Linked DNA regions of Homo sapiens: region 1 is linked to region 2. Evidence: fine-mapped QTL for protein levels in blood plasma. Region 2 holds a variant in brackets. A gene starts in the other region. All regions are shown on their reverse strands.

Region 1 (2,908 bases), not on the chromosome of region 2:
TTGGAGGCTGAGGCAGGAGAATCGCTTGAACCTGGGAGGCAGAGGTTGCAGTGAGCCCAGATGGCACCACTGCACTCTAGCCTGGGTGACAGAACAAGACTGTCTCAAACAAACAAACAAAAAAGATTTACAGAAGGAATGAGTCATAGAGGGCCCTCAACTCCTTGGCCTTCAAACCTAAATGGAACCAAGGGAGGGCAGACACTGGGACCAGCTATCTAGTGTTGCTTGCTTCCTGCTCCCACAAGCCTGAATGGCTAGCCACTAGCCTGGCCAATTGCATCTCCCATTACTCTTCCATAACCCCCTTCTGATCTAGATTGTTCTCACTGTCCCATGAACATACCATGCTCACTCCCATGTCTTTGTCTCAGCAGTGGCCCCCACCTGGGATACCCTTCCAACAACCAGCTCAAGTCCCACTTTGTCCTGGTGTCATCGTTCTCTCCTCACCTCTCTTCTGTGAGCTCCTCCAGCCCTTACATTCTAAAGTCCAGATTTGAGGCTTCATTATGTATTATCTATGTTGGGGTGTTTACTTTAAATACTGAGTGCTCACCATGTGCCCAGTGCTTTGTAAAGGCCATCTAATTTAACTCAGCTGTGTACTAAGATGGAGCAGGGGAGTATTACCCCATTTACAGATGAGGACACTGAGACTCCAAGAAATGAAGTGACTTTCCAATGTTTTACAGAAGGTACGTGGTGGACCTGGGGCTCAAACCCAGGCCTTCCAGACTCCAGAGTCCTGATTCCCTTGCTCCAATGGGCTCTCAGCTGCTGGGTGAGGCTGTTCCTGAGAGGTCTCCTCTTGCACTTCCCAAAACAACAGAGTAGACCCAGGCCCCAGGCCCAGCCATCAGGAGACTGAGGTTTGAACCCCAGCTCCGCCTCTCTCTGGGTCAGATGCTTGCTCTGTGAGCTGGGACTACTCTACTCGGGCACACGGTCTGGGACTGACCAGATCTCTTGGGGTACGTTTGCAGTCAGACCTGGGCGTGAGACCCGCTCCCGCCTGGCCCTGCCTTGGGCGCGCAGGGCGGCCTCGGCACTTGTCTGGCAACTTCTCCGCGGCCTCGGATCTTGCCCCAGCATTACTGCTGGAGTTGTTCCCCCATTTTACAGACAGGAAAACTGAGGCAGGCAGAAAGGAAGGCCCCGCCCGGCCGGCCCTCACCCTTGTTCTTCTGTGTCCGAGCGATCTCCTTCTCGATCTCCGAGATCTTCTCTAAGATCCCCATGGTAGCAGCAGAGGTGGGCGCACAGACAGCGGTGGCGGCGGCACCGGCAATTCCGGTCTGACGGCGGCGACAGAGTAGCGTGCGCCCGGAAGCCAAAGAGAACAGCGTTCTCGTGGGCGCCTGGTGCTCCAGGATTCAGAGTCCGGGCGAGCCAAGTGCCAGACACTATCGGTTCCGCCCGCTGGGCCGGCCAGGCTGCGGACCTCTGGAAAGAGCCGGGGCGGGGCCGGGCCATGCTGTACTGGCCCACGGCTGCGGCTGGCAGGAGCAAGCAAGGAAGAGAGGGAATCTGCCCGTGTTGAACTCTGAACTGCGGGTCCCTGAGCGCAGCTGACTGGCAGTGTAAGGAAAAGGGGCTGAGCCGAAAGCCTAGTGGCTTTCATTTTATACTATAAATGGAGGTGTCCAATCTTTTGGCTTCTCTGGGCCACATTGGAAGAATTGTCTTGGGCCACACGTAAAATACACCAACACTAACGATAGCTGATGAGCTTAAAAAAAAATCGCCAAAAAAACCCTCAATGTTTTGGCCGGGCGCGGTGGCTCACGCCTGTAATCCCAGCACTTTGGAAGGCCGAGACGGGCGGATCACCTGAGGTTGGGAGTTCGAGACCAGCCTGACCAACATGGAGAAACCCATGTCTACTAAAAATACAAAATTAGCCGGGCGTGGTGGCGCGCGCCTATAATCCCAGCTACTGGGAAGGCTGAGGCAGGAGAATTGCTTGAACCCGGGAGGCGGAGGTTGCGGTGAGTGGAGATTGCGCGCCATTGCACTCCAGCCTGGGCAACAAGAGCGAAACTCCATCTCAAAAAACAAACAAACAAAAAACCTCAGTTTTTTTTTCTTTGTTTTAGTTTTGTTTTTTTGAGACGGAGTCTCACTTTGTCATCCAGGCTGTAGTTCAGTGGTGTGATCTTGGCTCACCGCAACCTCCGACTCCTGGGTTCAAGTGATTCTCCTGCCTCAGCCTCCCAAGTAGTTGGGATTACAGGCGCGTGCCACCACACTCGGCTAATTTTTGTATTTTTAGTAGAGACGAGGTTTCACCATGTTGGCCAGGCTGGTCACGAACTCCTGACCTCAAGTGATCTGCCTGCCTCAGCCTCACAAAGTGCTGGGATTACAGGCGTGAGCCGCTGTGCCCTGCCTAAATTTCATAATGTTTTAAGAAAGTTTACGAATTTGTGTTTGGCCACATTCAAAGTGGTCCTGGGCCACATGTGGCTGCAGACCTCAGGTGGGACAAGCTTGAAGAGGTTCAAAATGGATCCCCAAGATGCTGCCACTGCACTCCAGCATGGGCAACAGAGCGAGAACCTGTCTCAAGAAAAAAAAAGTGGATCCCCATACCACCTTTTTTTTTTTTTTTTTTTTTTTGAGACAGGGTCTCACTTGATCACCCAGGCTGGTGTGCAGTGGCGTGATCACAGCTCACTGCAGCCTCGACCTCCCAGGCTCAGGTGATCCTCCCTCCTCAGTCTGGGAGAAAATCAGCCACCGCGCCTGGCTGATTTTTGTATTATGTTGTAGAGATGGAGTTTCACCATTGTTGCCCAGTCTGGTCTTGAACTTCTGAGCTCAAGGAATCTGCCAGCCTTGGCCTCCCAGAGTTCTGAGATTACAGGCATGAGCCACTGCACCTGCCCCCCATACCACCTTAACG
Region 2 (2,849 bases):
TATTACCCTGGCTCAGAATCCTCAAGCACTTGGGCATCTGATAAGAATTTCACATAGCGAACTATACCAGAGCTGTCAGGGCCTAGTACAATTTGAAATACCCACAAGATTATTTCAGGGTTAAAAACAAAAAAAGATATCAGTTTTATAAATGCTTATATGCATAGGATTTAGCGAGGGATAGCTTATGTCCAAAGAAATGAAAAGAATAGCACATCCTGCTGTCTTGACTCTGCCTACAGTGTTCATACCTAGTATGTTTCCAAAGTACTGGAAATGACCAAACATGATTAAGAATATATCCAACAACTGACCCTATATTCTATTTTAGACATACACATATAAGCAAGGATAGAGAAGGGAGCCAGACTCCATACACACTCACCCAGTTAATGACACTCTCAAACCCCTCTTCACTCATCCCCTTAACATCCTCACAGCACAGATGTACTGCTGGTGAGAGAGAACATGAACAGGACTGGAGCTATACAGGGATAGCTGAGAGACATCTGCCTGTTGGCAAAGCAGAACAAAATTTGCTACCATTGCAAGCAGTGGTCAAAAGGTGAAGCCAAGAAAACTAAGCTAAACAATGAAAGGGAGAGGGGTTGGAATTTATAAGTTAAAGTAATATACCTTACACTATAAATTCTGACTATCAACGATAGGCAACACTCAAAGGAAAGGATGGGGAATGTAAATGCACACACCTAGGTTCTACTCACTCATATTGGCTTTATTTGACCGCTTCTCAAATCTCAGAGGAGCCATATTGATATAGTTATGTAGCATTTTTATAATCATCCGAAGCATGGCTTAATAGAGAAATCTCGTCCTCTAAATTATACCTAATGAACTTCTCATTATAATATTTTACATTAGCCCAACCTACCAAGTAATCTTCTGCTCTCTCAATCTCAGCTGGAGCTGAATCCCAAGTCCCATATGTCTGGAAAGTGAAAGAACAGGCAAGCGTTCTGGACGTATAACTCAGTACCAGCCCTGCCGCTAACTCGCTGGCGGACAGTACAGAGCAAGCCACTTAGCTTTCCTGAACCCCCATGACCTTGGCTTGGAGCAGGAGCCCCAGGATAGATGATGTTTAATCTCCCTTCCAATCTAACAACCTATGAATTTATAGCAGAACGGAAATTTGGGCCACATTATCCATTAGGCATTCTGCTGAATGCCAGATTTTTTTTTTTTTCATAAGAAAAGAAACCCGACAGACTTCAGGGACTATGCTACTCTCAAAACCGATTTGAGTAACTGAAAACAGCACTCTGAATCCTATAAACTAAAACAGCATCGTATGAAAAACAGTTTCTACCTTAATAAAGCTAAAAATGTGAAAACTAACATTCTTGCGGCTGTGGAAAAACGAATCGCACTTGGAGTATTTTTTCTCTTAATGTATTATAAATCTCAGGTTGCTGTAGGTTACACAGAAACCAAAGTAATCCCGACTCAATTTTCAGGCCTGACACCCTCCAACATCACCCGGACTTTTAGATTTCCGGGAACAAGCAGAGAAGGAGAAAAAGTCACTGGGTTGCTGGTAAGTGACTGAAGAACTTGAGGAGTGGAGGGCAAGGTGGCCGCGCGGCCTCAAGGTCCCCTTCTCCACCCCAACCTATGAGGCCCAGAGCTGCGGCAGCTCCTGCCCGTCCTACTCCACCTCGGGGCGGCTACAGGCTTGCGGCCGCGGGAGTCACCTGTGAAGGAGTCAGGGTAGATGGACTCCAGGGCCTCCAGCTCGTTGCGCTGCTCCTCGCCGTAATCTGTCATCGTGGCCCTTGCTCTTGCCCATAGATCGCCCAGACACCTAGGCGGCGCGCAGCAGCCCAGACAG[C/G]TGCCGCGCCGGGAGAGCGGGCGGCGGCCAGGCGGGCGCAGGCGCAGAGTCCCCGGCTGGAAGGCCCAGGGCCCAAAGCCAGACCCGGCTTGCTTAACTGCAGCTCCGCGCCGGCCTCCGCCTGCTCCCTACTTCCACGTTCGACTCGTTCTGCCTGGCCAGGGGGCACTGATTTGCTGCCTGTCCCACACTCGCTCGGGACTTGCTGGGACGGTGCGCGCGGTCTGGCATTCGCCAAGGACACCTACAGCCGGCTCCTGGGCTTTGCAGGGCCTGAGCCTTAGAAGCCTCTCAGCGCTGCATCCTCGCTCGATGAGTCTGGGCTGAAAGGCCGGCATCGCGCGTCAGTGAAGGATAGTGTCGCTGGTGGCCGGGCTGGGGCGAGGGGCGTCCGATGCCTTCACCTTTTCTGGTTTCCGGTTTGACGCCGTGGCGTAGGTGCTGCGGGCTTGCAACCTAGTGTGGACTGGTGGGGCTCAGGAGATTTCTGAGCTTCTCGAACTCCGTATTGCTTGGCGTCCTACGGGAGTTGGACGAGAGGCTGGGACCAGTGTAGATTCCACTGGGCAGGGGAGCAAAAGCTCTGCACTGCCTTGAATGAGTATGGAAGGGTCGGTCTAACTGCTTAATAAGTCGGGGTGGATCCAGGAGGGAGAAATAGACCGGAGGTCCGGCTTCTCGGTTCAGATCTTTAGGCTTAACTTCTGATTTTGTGAAATGAACGCAGCTGGACGTATGATAGATCTCAAGATGTCTGTGATTGTGTATTTGTGAATTGATGAAAGGAATGTAGATCTCAGTAATAACAATTATCATATGCAATGTAAAAATTGCAGTACCCCGAGAAATGTTGAGAACCTTTAATTTGGTAATACGACTTCCAAGAATAAACTTGAGCAAGTAGCATGCATCTGTGATCTCCAAAATCATTGCAGCAATTACAAAGAAAATTTTCAAAGAACCATGATGGCAAAAGCTAAGAAAATGGCTAAATAAA

What was found. PIP is the chance, under the fine-mapping model, that this variant and not a neighbour inherited with it causes the effect. The UK Biobank Pharma Proteomics Project read protein levels with antibody pairs (Olink). The fine-mapping took linkage between variants from a reference panel, not from the people measured, so its PIPs are less certain.
Region 1: DRG2 starts here. The variant in region 2 is fine-mapped to the plasma level of the DRG2 protein (UK Biobank, PIP above 0.99).

The regions. Positions count from the first base shown.
Region 1 is chr17:18,086,357-18,089,264 of GRCh38, reverse strand. DRG2 (developmentally regulated GTP binding protein 2) reads right to left here and starts at 1,317. Exons shown (of 13, transcript NM_001388.5): 1 at 1,178-1,317. The coding sequence starts at 1,241. RefSeq lists enhancers at 433-932, 890-939, 990-1,309, 933-1,434, 1,500-1,659.
Region 2 is chr6:116,570,522-116,573,370 of GRCh38, reverse strand. It overlaps RWDD1 (RWD domain containing 1), which reads right to left and starts at 1,867. Exons shown (of 7, transcript NM_015952.4): 1 at 1,716-1,867. The coding sequence starts at 1,788. RefSeq lists enhancers at 1,613-1,712, 1,933-2,262, 2,293-2,472 and a silencer at 1,813-1,892. The variant C/G (reference allele first, on the strand shown) is at 1,853.